7 linked regions of the Homo sapiens genome follow. The protein of the gene in region 5 purifies or fractionates together with the protein of the main gene of each other region. This does not show direct contact. Each region holds a gene or a part of one and is shown on either strand. Other genes may lie near its edges.

The links.
Region 1: the proteins of GSTO1 (region 5) and TAGLN3 fractionate together in Homo sapiens (co-fractionation; one large-scale study listed by BioGRID). This does not show direct contact.
Region 2: the proteins of GSTO1 (region 5) and HEBP1 fractionate together in Homo sapiens (co-fractionation; one large-scale study listed by BioGRID). This does not show direct contact.
Region 3: the proteins of GSTO1 (region 5) and ACSF2 fractionate together in Homo sapiens (co-fractionation; one large-scale study listed by BioGRID). This does not show direct contact.
Region 4: the proteins of GSTO1 (region 5) and NIT2 fractionate together in Homo sapiens (co-fractionation; one large-scale study listed by BioGRID). This does not show direct contact.
Region 6: the proteins of GSTO1 (region 5) and TIGAR fractionate together in Homo sapiens (co-fractionation; one large-scale study listed by BioGRID). This does not show direct contact.
Region 7: the proteins of GSTO1 (region 5) and ACO2 fractionate together in Homo sapiens (co-fractionation; one large-scale study listed by BioGRID). This does not show direct contact.

Annotation. Positions count from the first base shown.
Region 1 is NC_000003.12:112,011,654-112,014,385, reverse strand, and holds the end of TAGLN3 (transgelin-3), read right to left. Parts: intron 2,624-2,732; coding exon 2,521-2,623; intron 977-2,520; coding exon 835-976; 3' UTR 501-834; downstream 1-500.
Region 2 is NC_000012.12:12,986,766-12,990,265, forward strand, and holds part of HEBP1 (heme-binding protein 1), read right to left. Parts: intron 2,651-3,500; coding exon 2,512-2,650; intron 568-2,511; coding exon 387-567; intron 1-386.
Region 3 is NC_000017.11:50,467,718-50,471,217, reverse strand, and holds part of ACSF2 (medium-chain acyl-CoA ligase ACSF2, mitochondrial isoform 2 precursor), read right to left. Parts: intron 3,179-3,500; coding exon of another isoform or gene 2,405-3,178; exon of another isoform or gene 2,338-2,404; intron 191-2,337; coding exon 83-190; intron 1-82. Other genes in the region: CHAD (chondroadherin precursor), read left to right, coding at 2,405-3,178. UniProt on the Homo sapiens protein: Acyl-CoA synthases catalyze the initial reaction in fatty acid metabolism, by forming a thioester with CoA. Has some preference toward medium-chain substrates. Plays a role in adipocyte differentiation.
Region 4 is NC_000003.12:100,344,757-100,348,256, reverse strand, and holds part of NIT2 (omega-amidase NIT2), read right to left. Parts: intron 2,673-3,500; coding exon 2,579-2,672; intron 2,077-2,578; coding exon 2,002-2,076; intron 1-2,001. UniProt on the Homo sapiens protein: Has omega-amidase activity. The role of omega-amidase is to remove potentially toxic intermediates by converting 2-oxoglutaramate and 2-oxosuccinamate to biologically useful 2-oxoglutarate and oxaloacetate, respectively.
Region 5 is NC_000010.11:104,261,392-104,264,891, reverse strand, and holds part of GSTO1 (glutathione S-transferase omega-1), read right to left. Parts: intron 1,914-3,500; coding exon 1,815-1,913; intron 1-1,814. UniProt on the Homo sapiens protein: Exhibits glutathione-dependent thiol transferase and dehydroascorbate reductase activities. Has S-(phenacyl)glutathione reductase activity. Also has glutathione S-transferase activity.
Region 6 is NC_000012.12:4,334,713-4,338,212, forward strand, and holds part of TIGAR (fructose-2,6-bisphosphatase TIGAR), read left to right. Parts: intron 1-2,326; coding exon 2,327-2,448; intron 2,449-3,500.
Region 7 is NC_000022.11:41,472,117-41,475,616, reverse strand, and holds part of ACO2 (aconitate hydratase, mitochondrial precursor), read right to left. Parts: intron 1-3,500. UniProt on the Homo sapiens protein: Catalyzes the isomerization of citrate to isocitrate via cis-aconitate.

The sequences.
Region 1 (2,732 bases), on a different chromosome or scaffold from region 5:
GTCAGCATCGGACCTAGGGTCTCGTCTGTAAGAGGAAGATGAATGCTAGAGAAGTGAAAACTGCTCATTCATCCAGTCATCTACCCACCCATCCATTCAATAAAACCATCCACCCATCCATTCTTCCTTCCATCCATTCAACAGATACTTCCTGGGCACCTATACAAGAGCTTCTCAAGAAACCGGGCTTTGTCTCCCGGGCTGTGTCCTCTACAGGTCTAGCACAATAAGCACAAAGTACATGCTCAAAAACTTGTTGTGGTCAAAGACTTTGTTCTTGAACTTATGTCTCTAGGCTCTCAGAGTGGGCGAAATGACTCCTAAACTTTCTATTCCAATTGCCAAGATAAACGCGATAATCTTGCAAGAGCGTCCTCATAGCTAACCTATATTGCTCAGCTGCAGCTTAAGCTTAATTCCATCTTTCTGGCCTTTGAATGGAAGAGAAACCAGTCCGGACTGTGGAGTCCTTAAGAGAAAGAATGAACTTTACACTGTAAGACACAAGACTAATTACTTTATTAGGTGCATTCTATAAGTTGAAGAGGAGAATTTTTGGCAAATAAATAAATAAATAAATAAATAATCAAACAGAGACTCTGGGGCCCGAGGAGCTCAGGAAAACGGAAGCGGAGTCTTTGCATAGTTCTAAATGAACAGGAGGTGGCAGCAGTAGGCAACGCGGATTCTCGGCGGAAATGCAGCACTTGCAAAAACCAGGGACAGAAGGCTTTGAGAAAGAGGAGAAGGTCAGAAGGTGACTAACTATTTCTTTTTCGTAGAGACCATGGTGTGGAACATTCGTCCTCTCTACCAGGGGCAGGATGCCGCGTCCTACATGATCTGCCTGGGCATCCCGTACCCTGTCATGCCCGCCTGGGAGGCTCCCTTGTTGCTGCCCATCTGCAGGCCTATTACGTTCTGTCCCTGGCGAAGCTGCTCCTCGGAAAAGCCTCTCCGATTCTGCTGGGCTTTCCTGGACAAGGAAAGTGAGAGGGAATAATGTCATTATGACAGTTTTCCAATCCTTTTCAAGATATGCAATTAGACAGGCTCTGCTGGGGGTCCCCAAATAGATCAGCAGGTCCTACCCTGAGCTGTGGTTATGAGCTATGGCCCTACTCTGAGCTATGGCCCTACCCTGCACTGTGGACCTACCCTGAGCCGTGGCGCTACTCTGAGCTATCTCTGGCCCTAGCCTGAGCTGTGGCCCTACCATGATGCATGAGCTCCCTATCTTTTAGAAGCCCAGGTGTTTTCCAGAATTCCAGCAAAGAGTAGGGCAGAATCAGTGGCTACCTCTCTGGGGAATTCACTCTCAGCTTTTCTTGTTTCTCTTTCTCCCCACTCTCCCTTCTTCCCCCACCACTTTAGGCCATCTCAGACTTCTAAGAAGAAGCCTGCTTCTTCTTACCCTTTCTCTCACAGCTACGTCAAGCCTTTGTGAAAATTAAAATTGGTTCTTCTTACAAAGCACATCATTAATCCCATTCCCCCTTTCCCTGTATAGGGCCAAGATGAATATACCCTTTTAGAGCCAAGGGACCTAAGAGTTAATGAGGGGAAATGTCGCACTCTAGATTAGAGGTCTGCAAACTTTGGTAAAGAGCCAGATAGTACATAATTGTGGTTGTGTAGCCACATGGGAACACGGTAGTTCACTAATAATACAGACACTAAAACCAGGGTTTCAAATGGCCAACCTCTCAGAAGTTTTCAGGGCGAGTGTTCTTTAAAATGACATAAGCTGGTAACTTTTTTTTTTTTAATAACTGTCAAGGAGAAGAAAAGGGGATGCTGGAAATGAATAATCAATTATTTGCCACAGGGCACTCTTCTACAACTAAATTACCCAGTTTAAGCTTCCTGCCTACCCTACCCCCTGAAAAAAAAATCATTTTAAAAAAAGACCCTTTACTGAGAGATAACCATATAATTTGTCATCCGGACTAGGACGCTGTTGAGAGTGAAAGAGAGTTCTATTAATAGATATACTGGGACAACATAGATATTAACCATGACTGTTCCAAACAAACATGACATATTTACCCTTTATTAAGTACACAAACAAAAAAGAAGGAAGGAAGGAGGGAGGGAGGGAGGGAAGGAGGAAGGAAGGAAGGAAGGAAGGGAGGGAGGGAGGGAGGGAGGGAGGGAGGGAGGGAAGCAGCCAGGCAGGCAAGAAAGCTCAGAGCTGGCTTAAGTCATAATAAAGCCAAGTTCAGACATGAAGCCACCTTCAAGAAAGGCCATCCAGTCCTGCTGAGCCTCAGGAGAAACAGAACCTGGGTGGAGCTGGGAGGTATCTGGTAGAAAAGGCCCAACCATTTCTGCTCTGGTTAGGTTACTGGCCTGTACAGAAGCATCAGTCTTTCATTGCTTTGGGGAACTCAGTTGTGGAGACAGCAGTGCTTGGTCCTGGGGCTTTGCACATAAAGCCTCTGTAGAGTTCCAAGGCTTCAGACCCTCCCTCTGGTTAAAATCGCCTTGTGGTCCAGGGGGCAAGGAAGAGGCTTTTACCTGTGAAACCAGGATGGCTCTCCCCGATAGCAGCCATCATCCTTGGTGACTGCAACGCTGCCTAAAGCCATCAGGGTCCTCTGCACAGCTGCCATGTCCTTCCCTGGAAGCCAACAAAGAGCTTAAAGCCAAGCACGTGTCAGAGCCAAGGAATGCTGGAAGGATACGGCTGGACACCCAGGAGGGAAGTTCTGATAGAAGGCTGCAGGTGA
Region 2 (3,500 bases), on a different chromosome or scaffold from region 5:
GAGTGTGGGGTAGAAATCAGGTATTCCTCAGCCCTTTATGCTTCCCATGTGTCCACGAATCCAGACCATGGCTTGACTTAAGATATTTGCTGAGTCTCCTAGAACCCTGCTATGGCTAATGTAGACATTCACTGTAAGCTTAAGCAAAGCTTAAGCTCGTCCCATCAATTTGGCAACTGGCCAAGGCATTTATTCTGATAAAATGCAAATGTGTGTGTGCTGCAGCCTGAAGAAATTAAAATGAGAAACTGTTAGGATTCAGCATTTCCTACTTAAATTAATTCAGCAACCATAAAAATTTGACGCGAATGCTTGCCAGAGGTGATGCAAGGAGTGGTACGGGAATCAAGCGCCACCCATGGATGCCTGAAGGATTGTCTCCTTACATGGAATAGACAGTGATGCCTTCCCGTTCCTCAATCTTAACGCTTTTGTCACTGGGAGCTGGTGGGTCGCTTTGAAATTGGTTTGGAATCCGGAACCAGACTTTTAATTTCTTCTGCAGAGAGCCATCTTCATTGGGGAACACAGCAAAGGAAATAGGGACTGTCATCCCCATCCCAATTCCTGAAAACACAAAAGCACAGAGTGAGGCAGGGATCAGAGACAGAGCTTGCTCAGGGCTGTGGAAGACACATTAGTTCCATTCGTCTTTCAAAGTGGTATGTTTTTGTTCTTGAAATTAACAATGAACATTTCAAGTGTTAAAAATACAGAAATACATGAACACCTGTTATTTGTATACGCTGTTGGTAGGAGTATAGTGGTACAACTCTAAAAAATGATTTGGCAATATATATCAAGACTGTAGATTATCAGTCTCTTTCTCTCTCTCTCTCTCTCTCTTTCTCTCTCTCTCTCTCTCTCTCTTTCTTTCTTTCTTCCGACAGTCTTGCTCTGTTGCCCAGGCTGGAGTGCAGTGGCATGATCTCGGCTTACTGTAAACTCTGCCTCCTGGGTTCCTGGGTTCAAGCGATTCTTGTGCCTCAGCCTTCTGAGTAGATGGGATTACAGGTGTGCGCCACCACACCCAGCTTATTTTTGTATTTTTAGTAGAGATGGGGTTTTGCCATGTTGGCCAGGCTCGTCTTAAACTCCTACCTCAAGTGATTTGCCCATCTTGGCCTCCCAAAGTGCTGGGATTACAGGTGTGAGCCACCATGCCTAGCCAGTATTTAATTACTGCCTATTTAAAACATCAATCTAAAATATGGAAAAGGCTATAGGTAGTAAGATATTCATTACAGCAGAATTATAAATTCTGTTCAAAACAGGAATATGTCTGTGTAAATTACAGACACATGATACAATATAATGTAGCTAGGAATTATGCTTAAGAAGACTCTGGTACTAGTGGAAAATAATTATGAAATAATAACTAACAGAAGCAGGATATGTAATTATAGGAACACTAAGATTACATTAAAAAGCCCTAAAAAATACATTCAAAAGACAACATTGATTGTATTGAATGGGGGAATTAGGGAATACTGTTTTGTTATTTTAAAGGTTTTCTTTAGTGAGTTTTATAATTCTCATACATATTTTCATTTAAAAAAATGTTAAGACAGTGTTAAGAAGGAAAAGATTTCTTCCTGACCTCCTACAGGTTAACGTATCTTCCAAAGCCTGACTACTTTAGTCCTAGTAAATTTTTTTTTTAAAGCAAGTTTTTTAAGTAAGTAAAGGAATAAAAGAATGGTTACTCAATAGACAGAGCAGCTCCTAGTAAATGTTACTAAGGCTAACACACGTTTTTAGCTCTCTAAATTATCAGCTTGAGAAATATCCTAAAAATTAAACACATCTCTTTTTTTTCCTCTTGCTTTCTGACCCATTTTTGTTTTGCAGTGATTCCAAAATGCTACCCAAATTAGAGGGCTTCTCACGAGTCAAACTCATTTTTAAATATGGTTTACATCTAACAGGTACACCTTTCATGAGACTTCAGGCTTATCATTTTAAAAGTAGAGAGGTGGCCAGCATGAACTGCCAAGTTTTTAAGAGCAGGATGGCCCAAGAATTCTCAGACCCTTCATTTGCCAGACAGGGTCTGGAACCTCACTGCTCACTGAGCCTCAGGACCCAGCAGAATCTGAGCTACCAGGGGCTGACTCTGGGGATCTCCAGCCTGATGCTGGCCTTGCGTTGTGCTGTAGCTCAGCTTACTGTGGGCACACGCCACCTAGTCAACCAATCCAAAGACATAATAAGCACTGCAGGGTTAAAAAAAAAATAGAGCCTATGGTCCCACACCTGGGAGTGAAGCAGGAACTTGGAGATATTGAGCAGGGATGCCTTCAAGTGAGGGACAGACTGGGCTGATATCAGAGTGGTTTCCCCACATTCCTGCAATAAACTGCTTGTTCACACAGTGCAGGAGGTTCACAGGTCATTGAAACAGGTCACTACAGGTGCCTTGTAGCCCCTCACTTGCATTTACCACTGATGAAGTGAGACCTTGCAAAGCTGGTCCCCGAGACCAGAGCCACATCCTGCAGGGGTACTCACCCTTGTCATTGGTGCCCCCCGCATACTTTGCGACCTTGGGCATTGCTTCCCGTAGAGCCTCATCCACAGGCTTATCTGTCACTTCTACTGTGGCAAATTTGCCGCCTTCACAGGCCCTTTCTTCATAGGCAACTTCTTCCTAGAGAGAGAGAAGGTACAGTGTTTAAGAGGTACAAAGTAGCAACTTGTGATGTCTCTAGAAGTAGTAACAGAGGGCTAAAAAACTTTCCTTGGTGGGTATGGCCATAGAGCAGAAGGGACAGGCCTGAGTATGAAGGGCCATGAGAAATAGATTCTGGGATTCTTGTAGAGACAATATCCAAAGCAGGAAAATCTTATACATTATATTCTTGGGGAGATAAGAGAAGATATTGCATCCTGAAAACCAGAATGCTACAAAAATGGAACATTCAGAGAGCAAAAGAGCTCTCAGAAATTAAAAATCTGATAACAGAGAAGAAAAATTCAGTAAACAGGTTGGAAGATAAAGTTAAACAGGAGATTCAGAAAAAAATACAGATAAACTTAGAAGGGAGGAAACAAAAAATACAACGATGACAATCCAACAAAACTGTGAAGCTCCCAAAATTAGGCTCATTCTAGTAGGAGGACTGCAATTCAAGGAATCAGAGTTCATTTTTCCCTTGGCCTCCTTGGGGGACTGGATCCAGGACCTCTATGGATACCAAAATCCATGGATGCTCAAGTCCCTGATATAAAATGGTGTAGTATTTTGCATATAACCCACACACATCCTCATACATACTTTAAATCATCTCTACATTACTTATAATACTTAATACAATGTAAAAGCCAAGCAAATAGTTGCTACTCTCTGTGCACACACACACACACACACACACACACACACACAAACACACACACATGTATTTTATTTATTTATTTATTTTTGAGACAGTGTTTCACTCTGTCACCCAGGCTGGTGTGCAGTGGTATGATCATGGCTCACTAGCCTCGACCTCCTGAGC
Region 3 (3,500 bases), on a different chromosome or scaffold from region 5:
TGAAAGCAACCGATGTCCCAGCTGGGTGCACCCCAGCTGGGTGACGGGAGGTGGGACTTTGGAGTCTTGGTCAGGGGCTCACCTCCGTGTGAGGCATAATTCTGCCCACGCTTTCTGCCTTCTGCTCCACAGTGTCCTCAGGGAAGTGCGCGAATGTCACGGGACTGTTCTCTGTGGTTCCATAAGCAACCTAGAGGGTCCAGAAAGGGTGTTTGAAGAGGGCTCAGCACGTGCAGAGGGATCAGGTGAGCTATCTGAGGAAATGGGAAGGAATTCATAAAAGAAAAGGGAAAGTGGAGGGCAGCCGAATGGTGGAAACAGAGACATCATTGGTAGGGGCCTGGGGTCAGGAGGCAGAGGTGCTGGGAGTGAGCAGACTAGATCTCTGCAGGGCCCCAGATCTGAAAGAAAATTGAGAGCAGGGACACCATTCTCTTCCAGCTGGAGCTCTCTCAGTGCCCCGTTTCCCTGGAGCAGCCACCTGTCTGTGCCTGTGGCTCCGGTATTACCAACACCCCACACTTCTCCCCCCATCCCCTGGCTGCCTTAACCCCACCTTCCTGATTTCAGGCCACATCCCCGGCTCCTCCCTTCCAAGCTGAAGGCCCCATAAACTTGATGAGAAAGCCAGCCTGCCTTGGCCCAGCTAGGAGTGGCACAGACACAACCCCACCCCCGCATTCTGCAAACCCTGAACAAGTGCCTGGCCTTGGGGCAGGCGTCCCCCAAGCTCTGGAGAGTTTCCCGTGAATTTATTTCCATCAAAATAAAAAAACAACCTAAGCAGTGATTTTAAAAACCAGTGGTACCCCCACCCCACCTCCCCCATTTCCAGTGGTTGGAAAGCCTGAGCAACAGAAAAACCAGAAGCCAGCCTTGGAGAAGCCTAAATACCATCAAGGAATGGTCTAGGCCAAGTATGACCCTCCTATCCTAGAGGCAAGGGGCAGAGAGGTTTGGGAAAAGGGCAGGCCCTGGAAACCAGGCCCCAACACGAGGGTACTGGGTAAGGGAAGAGAGGCTAGTTACCCCGTATCCTAGGTCCCCTTTAATCAACGGATACCAGATCTCATCCATCCTCCTCCCTGCACCAAGCTTCCCCCATATCAGCTGCTCTGGCTCTGGCACGGCTGGGGTTTGGTTCAATGTGGGTTCTGGTTTCTCCTTCCACCCCTCATCACAGACAATATCCTGTGCCAGGCAGCTTGGAGCTCACCCTGAGGCCAGAGCTGTGACCCTGCCTGCTCACCCTCCCCTTTCCACAGGAATCCGGACATCGTGGCTGGCAAGTGGGCACACAGAAATCTGGCGGGCTGGGGCGGGACTGCCCACAGAACTTAGGGTCTGGCAGCCAGAGCCGTCCAGGGCTGGTCCCTCGACCTGCCCCACCCCCTCCCGCACCCCTCCTCACAGTCCTGGGGCCACCGCCCGAATGTGGCATCTGCCAAGTACACCTCGGCGCCACTCAGCCGCCACCCTGAGACCCCTCAGGGGCGGGTCCTGACCACTAGGGTTGGGGATGAGGGATGGAGATATTTCGGGGCGATGAAGGAGGGGGGATGGTGCGACTGTGCTTGTGGCCTGTGGTTTCCAGGTGTGTTTGCCATTCCTGTGGGCCACTCTCCCCCACTTCCCACTTCTCTGCTTAGCCTTCAGCGGTGGAAAAAGGGGATGAGGGCGCCGGCGACAGAAACGCAAGCGGGGTTGGAAGAGAGGGGTGGGGGCGCGCCCGAGGGTGGGGAAGGAGCTCGGGTCTACCCAGGGCCAGCTTCGGCGCGTCGAGTCTGAAGTGGGAGACCGACGCCGGGGCGGCTCTCACGCTCGGCAGGCGCCGCACAAGCGCCCCTTTAAAGCGCAGGCAGCTGGCCCACCGCAGGGAGACGCATCCAGCTGTCCGGCCCCGCTTCCTCCCGCCTCGCATCCAGGGCACCCGGCCGAGCGTGTGTGGATGGCGCGGCGTGGAGGCTCAAACCTGAGCAAACAAATAAGTTGAGGGAACGCCTCCCTCTCTCCGATGTAAACTCGGGGCTCCAGACATAACTATTCCCCCTTCCCAGAAAAGCCCCGGGAAAGGCGGTAGGCAGAGGAGCACCATAGGAGAGCGGGGGGCTACAGCCGGGGCTCAGGGCTCGGGGCTCGGGGGCCACGGTCCCACCCCCTCATGCACGGTAGCCGGCTGGGGGAACGGCCCCGCCCCCTTCCCCGTGGAGGGCGGGGGCGCATCTCTGGGCGCGAGCGAGTTAAGCCCAGTGGCCTCGATGCTCCACGTAGGAGCTGGCTCGGCTGCCGGCTGCGGTCAGGGCCACCGTATAAAGAGGGCGGCAGACCCGAGCGCCTAGGACTCGCCGCTGCCCGCGCCCCGCCGCCGCTGCTGCCCCCAGCCCCGGCCCCAGGCGTCCCAGCCATGGTCCGCCCAATGCTCTTGCTCAGCCTCGGCCTCCTGGCTGGTCTGCTGCCGGCGCTGGCCGCCTGCCCCCAGAACTGCCACTGCCACAGCGACCTGCAGCACGTCATCTGCGACAAGGTGGGGCTGCAGAAGATCCCCAAGGTGTCAGAGAAGACCAAGCTGCTCAACCTACAGCGCAACAACTTCCCGGTGCTGGCTGCCAATTCGTTCCGGGCCATGCCGAACCTCGTGTCATTGCACCTGCAGCACTGCCAGATCCGCGAGGTGGCCGCCGGTGCCTTCCGCGGCCTCAAGCAACTTATCTACTTGTACCTGTCCCATAACGACATCCGCGTGCTGCGCGCAGGTGCCTTCGACGACCTGACCGAGCTGACCTACCTCTACCTGGACCACAACAAGGTCACTGAGCTGCCCCGGGGGTTGCTCTCCCCGCTGGTCAACCTCTTCATCTTGCAGCTCAACAACAACAAGATCCGTGAGCTGCGCGCAGGCGCCTTCCAGGGAGCCAAGGACCTGCGCTGGCTCTACCTGTCGGAAAACGCGTTGAGCTCCCTGCAGCCCGGGGCCCTGGACGACGTGGAGAACCTCGCCAAATTCCACGTGGACAGGAACCAGCTGTCCAGCTACCCCTCAGCTGCCCTGAGCAAGCTACGGGTGGTGGAGGAGCTGAAGCTGTCCCACAACCCCCTGAAAAGCATCCCGGACAATGCCTTCCAGTCCTTTGGCAGATACCTGGAGACCCTCTGGCTGGACAACACCAACCTGGAGAAGGTGAGCTCCTGGCTGTGGGCTCTGCCCTGGTTCCTTCTTCCCTTCCTGGAGGCCCCAGGAGCCAGGGCCACAGCTGGCACCATCCCCCGTCCCCAGGTTCCCTGTCCCTCTGGCTATCTCCAAGGTGAGCAGCTCTGCCACCTCCCTTCCTCGCCTTGTCACATCCCTACCCTAATCCCTGTCTGCTGCCAGTCTCGACCACTGCCCTCCTAGGATTCTTACATATAAAAGGAGTGGGACTGCCCTGGCCCCACAAAAGGCCCCCTAGGGCCATCTCCAGTGCTTCCAAACCCCCAACTGTGAGCAGCAGCCACCTCTTCCT
Region 4 (3,500 bases), on a different chromosome or scaffold from region 5:
AATCTCCACCTTTTTCTAGGAAGCGTCATGAATATTTCACCCCTTGGTAAAGAAACTCATAAAGGCGGTGGGTGCGCTGGCTCACGCCTGTAATCCCAGCACTTTGGGAGGCCGAGGTGGGCAGATCACCTGAGGTCAGGAGTTCGAGACCAGCCTGGCCAACATGATGAAACCCTACCTCTATTAAAAATACAAAAAATTAGCTGGGCGTGGTGGCGAGCGCCTATAATCCCAGCTACTGGGGAGGCTGAGGCAGGAGAATTGCTTGAATCTGTGAAGCAGAAGTTGCAGTGAGCCAAGATCGCACCACTGCACTCCAGCCTGGGCAACAGATTGAGACTCTGTCTCAAAAAAAAAAAGGAAACCCATAAAGGTAGATGGCCCAAACCTCCTTGCGCATGACTCTCTTGAGTACACACACCCTCCCTTTTTTGAGTGTGTACTTTTCACTTTGCAATAAATCTCCATACTTCCACTATTTTCTGACTCATCCTTGAATTCCTTCTTGCAATAGTGTCAATAGCATGGACACTGGCTGGGGTCAAGGTCAGACTGGTGTTTGGGGGCCTCCCCTAGCCCACCGGTATCAACTTCACTTAAAAAAAGGACGGAAAGCCTGGGCGACATAGAGAGACCCCATCTCTACAAAAAATTTAAAAATTAGCCAGGTGTGGTGGCACATGCCTAGAGTCCCAGCTACTTGGGAGGCTGAGGTGGGAGGATCACTTGAGTCCAGGAGACCAAGGCTTCAGTGAGCCATGATCACGCCTGCACTCTAGCCTGGGTGACAGTGAGACCCTGCCTCAAAACAAACAAACAAAAATAAGGTAGAGAACTGTCATTCAAATTTCTCTCAGCTCTGGCTGGGTGCGGTGGCTCATGCCTGTAATCCCAGCACTTTGGGAGGCCGAGGCGGGTAGATCACCTGAAGTCAGGAGTTCAAGACCAGTCTGGCCAACACGGTGAAACCCCATAACTACTAAAAATACAAAAATTAGCTGGGCCTGGTGGTGGGCACCTGTAATCCCAGCTACTCAGGAGGCTGAGACAGGAGAATCACTTGAACCTGGGAGGTGGAGGTTGCAGTGAGTCGAGATTGCACCATTGCACTCCAGCCTGGGCGACAAGAGCTAAACTCTGTCTCAAAAAAACAAACAAACAAACAAACAAAAAAAAACAAATTTATCTCAGCTCCATATGTCAGCTCCACATGGCCAATGACCACGTTTTGTAATTCTTTTCAACTGAAATTAGGGGCCGAGGAGTTGCCCTAAGGCTTATTGATATATGGCTCAACAGAGACTACTGACCCCAGAGCCCATGCACCTCCACCTTCTGAGCAGGCAGTCAAACCATTTCCACCCACTTCACTTGGTTAAGTGACAGTCTATTTGGAAGTAGCTTCAAGCAGTCTAGTAAGGATGCTGGTATTTGTTGAGTACCACACGAGGGGCTTTATAGGTTCTCTCTTCTTAATCCTCATATCATTCCTGTGACTAAACTGAGAACCACACTGCTCTAGAGGTGAAATCATTTTAGCAAAGTACTGTGCCAATTAAAGGGAAGAGTTGGAACTAGAACCCACATCTTTTGAACTCGCTCTTCCCAGATACTGGCACATTTCTCCTCGTCTGGACCAAAATATCACAGACCACATTTCTACTTGTACCCAATGTCTAGGGGTACTGAGTGGTGAAATCCACTTCATTTCTACTGGGCTTCAAGTGACTCTCCAAACACAGTAACAAGGACTCAAGGGTAGACCAGACCTTTATGAGCACAGCTCCTACCTTAGCTACATGATGTGTTTAATTACAACCCCCCAAAAACCCTGTCATCCATACACAGCAAAAGTCTGGGAAGCCTCATGGGGGTGAAAGGGCTGAAGATGGAGAAATTAAAGAGCCCTCTCCCAGCTTTTCTTGACTAAGGATCCCACATAGACCAGCCTAGAACCAAGCCTCCAAGCACCCACATAACACAGCTATTACACTGCCTCACCTCTCTGTGCGTAGATTTGTGCAAGCTCTGCAAACCGCATGTCGTAGCAGATGCCCAGACCCACTCTGCAGTAAGCTGTTTCCAAACAGAAAATGCACAAATGAAAAGTTAACTCCCTACAGCATGGTGTGGCAGGGGAAATCCTCCATGACATAATGATCACAAAACACTGACAGGGATAAATTAACACAGGACCTGAGGACAGAGATAATTTACAAGCTCATTCCTACTTGGACTTCATCTCATAAAGACATCATTTACATCAGCGGAGTAAAGATGAGAAATTCATTCTAATTGAATGCTTATTATCTAGATGGGAGGTACTCAACTGTAGCCTAATAGGTATACTCTGGAAGCCGTAACAGGAAGCTACAATCAAATCAAAGGGCAAAATCGTGTCAAATCCTTAGTTCTCAAATAAGCCCGAACTTTCCAGATCTGTGATGATTCTCTGCCTTTCTCACTTATGGTCTTTCAGTTAGGTTATGTGAAGAAATCGGAGAGAGACAAAAAAGAAATAAATACCTGATTGTCTTCTACTGAGATTGCTAAAGAGGCAAACTTATCTGGTACATACGAGTATCAAATGTGGAGAAACTATCACCCGGACTCAATGTTTTAGATTCTTGAAATGTAATTTTTCCAGGAACATCAATGTCAAACAGATGGATCTGCATCACAAATAATGGATTTGGTTACCTCTTTTCCAGCAGGGTCCATGGCAGTAATGACAATATCTTTCCCCGGGCAGATACGGAAGGTGCTCTAAGATTAACTATACAAACAGCACCCCCAAACTGCTTATAATCCACCCCACAAGCTGGCTGACACCTTATCAAAATGAATTCTACCACAGGGAACTGGAAAAATGATACTGTACCTTTTATAACCCCTATTTTCTAGCAGTCTGCAAATCAACCTCTAGGTTTCTCATGGGAGGTAACTAATATGTTGCTTTTTAAAAATATAAATGCTAAATAAAGACTTCTCAGAATCAGGCCGGACACGGTGGCTCATGCCTGTAATCCCAGCACTTTGGGAGGCCGAGGTGGGCGGATCACCTGAGGTCAGGGGTTCGAGACCAGCCTGGCCAAAGTAGTGAAACCTTGTCTCTACTAAAAATAGAAAAAAAAATTAGCCGGGGGTGGTTGTGCGTGCCTGTAGTCCCAGCTACCCAGGAGGCTGAGGCAGGAGAATTGCTCAAACCTGGGAGGTGGAGGTTGCAGTGAGCCGAGATCACGCCATTGCACTCCAGCCTGGGTGACAGAGCAAGACTCTCTCTCTCAAAAAAAAAAAGAAAAAAAAAATACTTATCAGAATCAAACTGACAAATTGACAGGAGAGGTGGAAAGTAGGTGGGCATTTAAAAATCACCTGAGGTCAGGAGTTCAAGACCAGCCTGGCCAACATGGTGAAACCCCGTCTCTACTAAAAATACAAAAATTTGCCAGACATGGTGGTGCATGCCTATAATCCCAGCCACTTGGGAAGCTGAAAGA
Region 5 (3,500 bases):
CTTTTGGATGCAGGTATTCGATAAATTATATGAGATATTCAACACTTTATAAATATTTTATGTTTGATGGTTTTATGTTTGATGATTTTGCCTAATTGCAGGCTAATGGAAGTTTTCTGAGCACATTTAAAGCAGGCTAGGCTAAGCTATGATGCTCTGTAGGTTGGGTTTATTAAATGCATTTTCCACTTATGATATTTTCAGCTTACGGTGGGTTTATTGGATGTAACCCCATTGTAAGTGCAAAAGCATTTGTACTTAAAATATACTGGAAATAGACTGGATTAACTGCTAAACAGATGACAATCATTTGAAAACAAAACACAAATTGTATGTTTCTGAAATTTTAAGAAGGCGAATTGGTTACAGGGTTTGCCAAAGGGGGTGATTGAGAATATTATCTGGCTATTTAAACCACCAAACTAATTTGCCCTTTATAAATAACCTCCATAGTTTTTTTTCAATGCATAATATGCATTTTAGATTGCTTATATCTACCTACTGTGTTCTGTCTACTACTAAACTAATTATCTGAAGAATATGGACTGCATCTTACTTTCCAGCTCCCACACTGTTCAGCAGAAAAATATAAAAGTACCAACACTGATTCAAGAAGAAATATAAAACCAAAAAACCAATTACCATTAAAGAAATCAAACTAGTAATGAAAAATCTACCCCTGTTAAAGACACCAGGCTCAAATGTTTTAAAGAAACCGCTAGTCCCTACCAAATGGTTTCAGAGATTAGAAAAACAGGTTAGTTACCCAACTCATTTTATGAGGTCAGAATATCCTTGAAACCAAAAGCCAATAATGATACTATAAGAGTAGAAAATTTATAGGCCAATCTCATTTATGAACACACATACAAAAATCATTCATTAGCTAATTCTACAGTACATATAAAAATCCATAGAGAACAAGTAGGTTTTATCTTAGGAATGCTAGGATGGTTAAACATTAAAAAAAAAAAAATTTGTCAATAGCACCATATTCACCAGATTAAGAGGAAAAAATTCTATGAACATTTCAATAGATGTAACAGATGCAGAAAAACCATTCAATAAAATTCAACATTTATGACTTTTTTAAAAATTAGCAAACTAGTAATAGAAGAGAACTTTATAATGAAAAAAAGGTTTCTGAAAAACCTACAGCAAACATCATGCTTACTGATAAAATGTTAAAATGCATTCCCATGAAAGACAGGAACTATGTCTTCTGTCAGTAAAAACTTCAGGCTTAGCATGAATGAAATATTTCAAGGCCAAGAGACAGACTCCAAGGCCCAAATGTCAGCTGTCCCCAAAAGAAGGTAAAATACATCTGGGCTTCCCTCAAGTGTCTGTACTGTTCATTGCAAACTTTTTCTGGTGGGAAATATTTAGTATGTAATACTAAGTGGACACAGGAAAAAAAGCAGGACACAGAATGATATCTATGCTCTGATTAGAGCTATATTAATTTTTTTTAAATATATGGACAAGGACTGCAAACAAGCATGGAAAACTGGATACATAAAAACTTGTGGAAACGTGGGTACAATTTCCTTTTTCCTTGTTATTTTAACATTAGCAGAATATTTTAAAAGCAAGCCCATGACAAAGTCTGTTTAGGTGTTTTGATTTATATCTTAAGCAGGACAGCTTTCTGCTTTATAACAGCAGTCTGCTGTAAACAAAAATGTTTAGGGGAATTTTCCTAATTACCTTAAAGTGACTTGGAAAGTGGGAATATAAAGAAAAGAATAGGAGGAAAAGGAGGGTAGATATAGTTATCGTTTACTCTGATGATAGCTAGGAGAAATAATTACCTCCTCTAGCTTGGTAAATTCTTTACGAAATTCTTCTTTTAGGCCAGCATAGTCTTCTTTATTTTGGCTTCTAATAAAGCTTCCTACCAAGGATGGCACCTAGACAGAGAATAATTTCTTAGTTTATCAGTTTATGGCTAACTGTATCGGCCCCCTCACATAAAAATATGGTAGAACCCTTACAGTCCTGGTGTCAAGGTGTTCTAGAAACACCAAGGGTGCATCAAGTTCCTGCGCTCACAGAGGTAATGGACTGGTCTTAGGAACAGTTTTGTGGCCTAAAATGCTGGCTTGGTCAGGATTTTATAAATTACAAATAACAGAAGCTACCCTGGCACGTTTAAGAAACAACTTTCTTTCTTTTTTGAAATGGAGTCATGCTCTATCACCCAGGCTGGAATGCAGTGGCACGATCTCAGCTCACTGCAACCTCCACTGCCCGGGCTCAAGCAATTCTCCTGTCTCCGCCTCCTTAGTAGCTGAGATTATGGGCGTGCGCCACCACGCCAGGCTAATTTTTGTATTTTTAGTAGAGATGGGGATTCACCATATTGGCCAGGCTGGTCTGAAAACTCCTGACCTCAGGTGATCCATCTGCCTCAGCCTCCCAAAGTGCTGGGATTACAGGCTTGAGCCACCACGCCCGGCCAACACAACTTTCTTTAAAGGAGACTGAGTGGCTCATAGAATTATTGGGAGGCGGAACAAACAGGCTTGGAATTAAGACAGAACATCCCAAATTCATGCTGAGAAATGGCCTAATGGGAAGCACTCACTGCTGCCAGTCCAAGCTGAGCACCAGATGCTTCAGTTTGTGAGGCTGCCAGAAAGTAGAGTCTGAGATAACTGCTAACACCACTGGCACTGATGCCATTTCTACTCTGGAATTTTATCTTGTAACCCACACTGCTGAAACCCAGAAGCTCTGCCGCTGCTCTCACCAGGAAAACCAGTGGAGAGCTGAATATCTTAAGCAGATATCCCACCAAGCCTGTTTCCTTACCTTGCTCGTTTCTGATTTGAACTCTATGTGTGTGTCTGACAGGAAGAGCCTAGGTCACAAAACTTGGCCCCAACTGCAAAGAGCTAGGGAAGAAAATTTTTCTGATTTCTTTGTTGGGGAGGACACCAGGAGACTGTTCAAAAGGGACCGACTACCTAAAGACTTGATGGGTGTAGCATCAGATGCTTTAATGCTCGTGATGGTGTTTATGTGTTTTAATACTTTGGTCTTTGGTATCATTTTATTGCAAGACGCAGAAGTCCACTCATCCTAGTTTAAGTAAACAGGCACTTGTAAAAATATAGAATCCCATGAAATCCCATCCACATCAGTTCAGCCTGCCTTCACTGGGACTGAAGGCTTTCAGGCAGCCCTTTCATCCACATTTCCACCTGGGTCTGCCTGGTCTTTCGTCTGTTTTTCCTCACATTTCTGCTCCATATTACTTTGCATACTTCAGTCCCTTTGCAATGTTTTTAATTCTTGCTCCTCTAAAAATTTATTTCTTAAGTGGCTTTGGTTTTTCTAGCCTCTAATTAACATTATTTGAGCCCCAACGCTTAGTTGTCTTTACTGTCCTAACCTTTACTGTCTTAGTTCTGTGTCTCATTTCCAAGTTCCCAGGAGAGAAGATAACTGGCCCAGGTGTGTGGGGTGGGGTACATTTCTGTTCTGATGGGCTG
Region 6 (3,500 bases), on a different chromosome or scaffold from region 5:
GAGCAGCTGGTGGTAAACATAGTGGCTTCAGTCGGTACACACTTGTAACTGATGATTCTCTCAGCACTTGGAAGATAGCATTCTGCAGTTTTGGTTCCATTTTTCCTGTTAAGAGATTTCTATCAGCTAAATGGTGTTCCATGGTAGGAAATATGTCTTTCTCTGTAACTTCCTTTAAACTCTTCAATTTTGATATTCTTTAGTTTCTCATAATATATCTAGGAGGAATTTTTTTTTTAATGTATCCTGCTTGATGTACATGTGTTTTCTTATTCTGTGAAATTCTTAGCTATTTTCTTTTCATATTCCTCTCCTTCATTTTTTCTGTTCTTTTATTTTTTTGAGACGGAGTTTCACTCTTGTTGCCCAGGCTGGAGTGCAGTGGTGTGATCTTGACTCACTGCAACCTCCGCCTCCTGGGCTCAAGTGATTCTCCTGCCTCAGCCTTCCAAGTAGCTGGGATTACAGGCGTGCTCCACCATGCCCAGCTAATTTTGTATTTTTAGTAGAGACAGGATTTCGCCATGTTGGCCAGTCTGACTTTGAACTCCTGACCTCGAGTGATCCACCCCCTTCAGCCTCCCAAAGTGCTGGGATTGCAGGCGTGAGCCACCATGCCCGGCCATTTTTTTTTTTTTATTCCTTTAGAGTTCCAATTAGATGCATGTTATAGACTGAATGTTTTTCTTCCCAAAAGTTACATGTTGAAATCATAACTCCCAATATGATGACATTAGGAGGTGGGGTCTTTGGGTGGTTATTAGGTCACAAGGGTGCAGCCCTCATGAATGGAATTTATTCAAGAGACACCAGAGAGCTCTTTCCTCTTTGTGCCATGGGAGCACTGAAGGAGAAGTCAGTAGCGTGTAATGTGGAGAGGCCCTCACCAGAACCCAACCATGATGGTACCCTCATCTCAAACTTCCAGCCTCCAGAACTGTGAGAAATAAATATCTGTTGTTAACAAGTCACCCAGTCTGTAGTACTTTGTTACAGCAACTAAGACAAGGCATCGTTAGGAGTTCTCATTCTTTCCTTTAGAACTCTAATATATCTGAGCTATGCTCTATCTCCTTGTATCTGTGCCGTGTACTGGGTAATATCTTCTGCTCTGTCTTTGAGTTCATTAAACCTCCTTTCATCTGAATCTCTGTTTATCCATTGAGGGGCCCTCCAGCCCCCAGCAATCCTGATTTTTATTATTAAAAGATCTATTTGGTTATTTTAGAAAATTGTCTACTTATTTTTGATGCTTACTGTTACTTGCTTATTTTTGTGACTCTGTCTTTATGTTTTATTCATAGTTATTGTAAATTCCCTATTTGCTGATTTCAATGTCTGAAGTCTTGATGGGTGGCTTTGGTTTATGGTAGATTATTTTCTTGTGTGTTGAATCTTTGGCTAAACAATTATTTGTTCTAAATTAGTGGAAAACCTGTTAGCCTCTTTTGAGAATGCTTTGCTCTGAAAAGGATTTGCATTTTATTTTACCACAGGCCTGAGGCTGCATTAAGTCTCCTTACAGGAGCCCTCGCTCCCAAGAATGTTGTGTTTAGTCCTCCCGCTTGCCGTCCCCTCCAGCAGGCCTCCTCTCCCAGCCCCACCAGCGTGTCCTCATAGTCCACCACCTTCATTTTTTTCATGTCGGTATTCACAGTTCAGCTCAGGGCTTTGGGGTTGCTTTACTTTGTCCCTTGGAGATTTTTTGTATGTTCTGTGGGCCCAGCAATGCAGCACACACACACACACACACACACACACACACACACACACACACACACACTCACACACATACACCATTTAGATCTTTAGTAGGAGGTCCCTTCAGAGTGTCCAGCCAACCGTTATCCTGGAAATAGAGGTTTCAAAGCATTTTTAAAATGAAAAAGACAAAGAAATGGAGGGAGGAAGGAAAGAGGAAAAGTAATACCATTATAATACTGAGCATTTGGATGATGGGAATAAAGAAGGAAAAAACTTTTAGATGATGGTCCTACCGCCCCAACACAGTACCTGTAAGATCAGAGCCAATTAATGAAGAGAGGGGCAAACATAAAAGAGGGAAAAGCTAAGACATTTCTATCTCATCATCACCTAATTCCCATTAGGCAAGCATTCTTTTGGAAAATAATTGAATACCTGAGCCTTTAAAGACTTAAAACTTATTTTTACTTGCTAATAACTCCCTGAAAAGTTACGTGGAAGAGTACTTAAAAAATCTTTCATTAAAATTTAGATAAATGCAGCTTATATTTTCTACATGTGATTTATACATCTCTGATATGTAGTTTTGAATGTTATTGTTCCTCTTCTTAATATATCACAGGACAAGGAGTAGATGAACCTCTTTCAGAAACTGGATTTAAACAAGCAGCAGCTGCTGGTATATTTCTGAATAATGTGAAGTTTACTCATGCTTTCTCCAGTGATCTCATGAGGACAAAGCAGGTACATTTATTTATTTATTTATTTTGAGACAGAGCGTCACTCTATGCCCAGGCTGGAGTGCAGTGGTGCAGTCTCTGTTCACTGCAACCTCCATCTCCCGGGTTCAAGTGATTCTGATGCCTCAGCCTCCCAATAGCTGGGATTACAGGTGTGTGCCACCACACCTAGCTAATTTTTGTATTTTTAGTAGAGATGGGGTTTTGCCATGTTGCTGGTCTCAAACCCCTAACCTCAGGTGATCCACTTGCCTCAGCCTCCCAAAGTGCTGGGATTACAGGCGTGAGCCACCACGCCCAGCAACAGGTGAGTTTAGAGTCAAGGTCTAGGCTGATGTGCCAAAAGTCTCAACAATTGTATAATCTTGAAAAATCTGCTACCAGAGTCTGTAGGGAATTAAATCCCAAACAGACATGACCTTCCTCAACAGAACTTATTTATTTTAATTTTATTTTGTACTTTTTAAAAAAAATAATTTTTAAATTAGAGTAGCCTAGAAAAAAAAGTCCAGCAAGAATATAAATAAGCTATTATGAGAGAGAGCAGGGAAAATGACAGGAGAAATTAATCCACTGTGACATCAGGTATTAGGATTACCAGATAGAGTAAGAAACCACTATGTCACTGTAAAGAAATAAAAGACTTGTTAGAAATATCTTCAGGGAACAGATTACTATAAAAATGAAAAACCAGTTGGGCATGGTGGCTCATGCCTGTGATCCCTGCACTTTGGGAGGCCGAGGCAGGTGGATCACTTGAGGTCAGGAGTTCAAGACCAGCCTGGCCAACATGGTGAAACCCTATCTCCACTACAAATACAAAAATTAGCCAGGTGTGGTGGCGTGCACCTTAATCCCAGCTACTTGGGAGGCTGAGGCAGGAGAATCGCTTGAACACAGGAGGCAGAGGTTGCAGTGAGCCAAGATCGTGCCGTTGCATGGTTGGGCTACAGAGCAAGACTCTTGTCTCGAAAATAAAAAAAAAGTAAAATTAAAAACGAACCCAGTCTACTTCTAAAAACTCCATGGAAGGAGAGTTTTGTGACCAACTGTGAG
Region 7 (3,500 bases), on a different chromosome or scaffold from region 5:
GGCCCATTTGCTGCTTTTTAAAGGCTACAAGAAGTCTCTCTACAATACCTTCCTTCCTTCATGCTGAGAGGCCCAGAGCCCACCACTGCCTTCCAAACCAGGTGCTGGGAAAACGAGGCAAGTCAAAGAAAGCTGGAGCCAAGGAAGACTCAACACTCTCTTCCCACTAGCCAGGCACAGTGGCTCGCGCCTATAATCCCAGCACTTTGGGAGCTCAGGAGTTCAAGACCAGCTTGGGTGACATGGCAAGATCCCCATCTCCACAAAAAATAAAAAATTAGTTGGGCATGGTGCCACATGCCTCTAGTCCCAGCTACTAGGGAGGCTGGGGTGGGAGGACTGCTTGAGCCCAGGAGGTCAAGGCTGCAGTGAGCTATAATTACACCACTGCACTCCAGCCTGGCTGACAGAATGAGGCCCTATCTCAAAAAAAAAAAAAAAAAAAAAGGAAAAAACAATTTTTTTTTTTTTATAAAAAAGGTAAGCATTTACAAGATGGCCCTCTTGGACACACACCAGGTTTCACAATAAGACCAGATAGGACAGAGTCCACATGAGACAATATGCTCATACTCGACTCAAGTGAGGGCCCCTGGGTAAGACACTTGACGTCATCTGGCTTTCTCACCTGTGAAATAAAGTACTTGAGAACTGATGAAAGAATCAAAAATTTATCAATGAGATTCTGCCCTTAGCTAATTTTTATAAGTACTGTGCAGGCCGGGTGCAGTGGCTCACGCCTGTAATCCCAGCACTTTGGGAGGCCGAGGCAGGCAGATCATGAGGTCAGGAGATCGAGACCATCCCGGCTAATAGTGAAACCCTGTCTCTACTAAAAATACAAAAAAAAATTAGCCAGGCATGGTAGCGGGCGCCTGTAGTTCCAGCTACTCAGGAGGCTGAGGCAGGAGAATGGCGTGAACCTGGGAGGCGGAGCTTGCAGTGAGCCAAGATCGCGCCACTGCACTCCAGCCTGGGTGACAGAGTGAGACTCCGTCTCAAAAAAAAAAAAAAAAAAAAAAAAGGCTAGGCGCAGTGGCTCACGCCTGTAATCCCAGCACTTTGGGAGGCAGAGGCGGGCGGATCATGAGGTCAGGAGATTGAGACCATCCTGGCTAACACGTGAAACCCGTCTCTACTAAAAACACACAAAAAATTAGCCAGACGTGGTGGCAGGCGCCTGTAGTCCCAGCAACTCGGGAGGCTGAGGCAGGAGAATGGCATGAACCCAGGAAGCAGAGCTTGCAGTGAGCCGAGATCGCGCCACTGCACCCCAGCCTGGGTGACAGAGCGAGACCCTGTCTCAAAAAAAAAAAAAAAAAAAAAATGACTGCAAACACACGACCACTGAATTCAATCAAGCTCACCCATCCCTCAGTTACTAAGACCCCAAACCCAGGAGTCACCCTTATTCTCTATCCCTCCCATGCGCCAACCCATCTGCCTCCAAATATATCCCAATTTTGAATACATCTCATTATCTCCACCCCCCAGATCCCTAGTCCCAGACTCCTCTGCCATTCCTGGGATGACTCCAACAGTCCCCCACTGGTCTCCCTGCCTCCTCCTTTTGACCCTCTATGGTCCATCATGCACGCAGCAGCCCAGATGATCAGATCACATCACTCCCTGGCTTAAAATCTCCCAGTTTTCACTACACTTGGATTTCCTTACCGAAGCCTGCCTGACCCTAGCCCCAGCCTCTTGTTCAGACCTTTCGCTCCTCAGGACACTGTAGCAACACTGGCCTTAGCTCTTATCCTCAACACACTCAGCTCATACCTAGGTGGGTGCTCTGCACATGCTCCTTCTATTTGAAGTCTCCTCCAAAAATGGTAAACAGCTGCGTTCGTATCATTTAAGTCCCAGTTCAGATGTCACCTCTTCTACGAGGTCTTCCCCAAACACCCCAGTTAAAAATGCCATGTTCCCACCCCTATTCTCTCTACCTTATCTTCCCCACAACACTCAGTAATACAATATTCTTATTTTTCTACGTAATTTCCCCAGGACAACAATTTAAGCCCCACTATTCTTGTTCACTACTGCACCCCCAGTGTCTAGAACAATGCTAGGCAGTGCTAGACATTAAGCTTTTTCTTTCTTTTTCTTGAGACAGAGTTTCACTCTTGTTGCCCAGGCTGGAGTGTAATGGCGTGATCTCGGTTCACTGCAACCTCCACCTCCTGGGTTCAAGTGATTCTCCTGCCTCAGCCTCCCGAGTGGCTGGGATTACAGGCATGTGCCACCACACCCGGCTTATTTTGTGTTTTTATTAGCTATTGGGTTTCACCATGTTGGCCAGGCTGGTCTTGAATTTCTGATCTCAGGTGATGCATCTGCCTTGGCCTCCCAATGTGCTGGAATTACAGGCGTGAGCCACCGAGCCCAGCCAAAGCTTTCAAAGAACACTGTGAAGCAGTTGGTTTGAAAGGTAATGCTGTGCTCCCTTAATCCTCAGGATGGTGTGTCTGTTCCCTCTGTCCACATCTAAGATGGAAGCTTATTTACCAATTCATTCACTCAATTCTAATAACAACTGATATCTGCGAAGGTTATCACAGTGACCATACAACCAGAATCATCTGTTTCACAATTCAAACCAAGATTTTATTTTAACATGGCACAGAGTTTCTGCCAAATATTTTTGTAGTTAACTGCCATCACAAATTTATATGCAAGAGGTTACATGACTTCCCCCAAGGTCACATGAAACCTCAGCACCCCAGTTATCTCAAGGCAAAACCAAACACCTAATAAACATACTTGCAACTGCTCAGCCCCTCTTGTGTACTACTCAGTCATATGCACAAAAATAAATGCTAAAAACCAGAGAATAAATGTGGTTTTTCAAAAATCTCACCTCCTTAGCTGGTTGCAGTGGCTCACGCTTGTAATCTCAGCACTTTGGGAAGCCAAGCCAGGATTGCTTGAGCCCAGGAATTTGAGACTAGCCTGGGCAACATAGCGAGACCCCCATTTCTTTAAAAAAACAAAACAAAATAAAACAAAACCCACGTTCTATTTTCTTATTTCTAATCTTACTACCTGGTAGCAGGTACTGTCAAACGAGAGTACACATTCAACTTGGCACTGTTCTGAGGTTATGGTGCCCTGATCCACAGGCTGAGCTCGATGCCAAAGGGAAGCAGCATAGTGCCAGTTGCTAAGCCCTCAGGCTTCGGAATCAGACATGTCCAGATTCAAACCATACCTACTAACAACTACTGATAAAGCCCCAGGCAATTTTTTTTTTTTTTTTTTGAGACGGAGTCTCACTCTGTCACCCAGGCTGTAGTGCAGTGGCGCGATCTCGGCTTACTGCAACTTCCGCCTCCTGGGTTCAAGGGATTCTTCTGCCTCAGCCTCCCGAGTAGCTGGGACTACAGGCGCCTGCCACCACACCCAGCTAATTTTTGTGTTTTTAGTAGAGATGGGGTTTCACCATATTGGCCAGGCTGGTCTCGAACTCCTGACCTTGTGATCCACCTGCCTTGGCC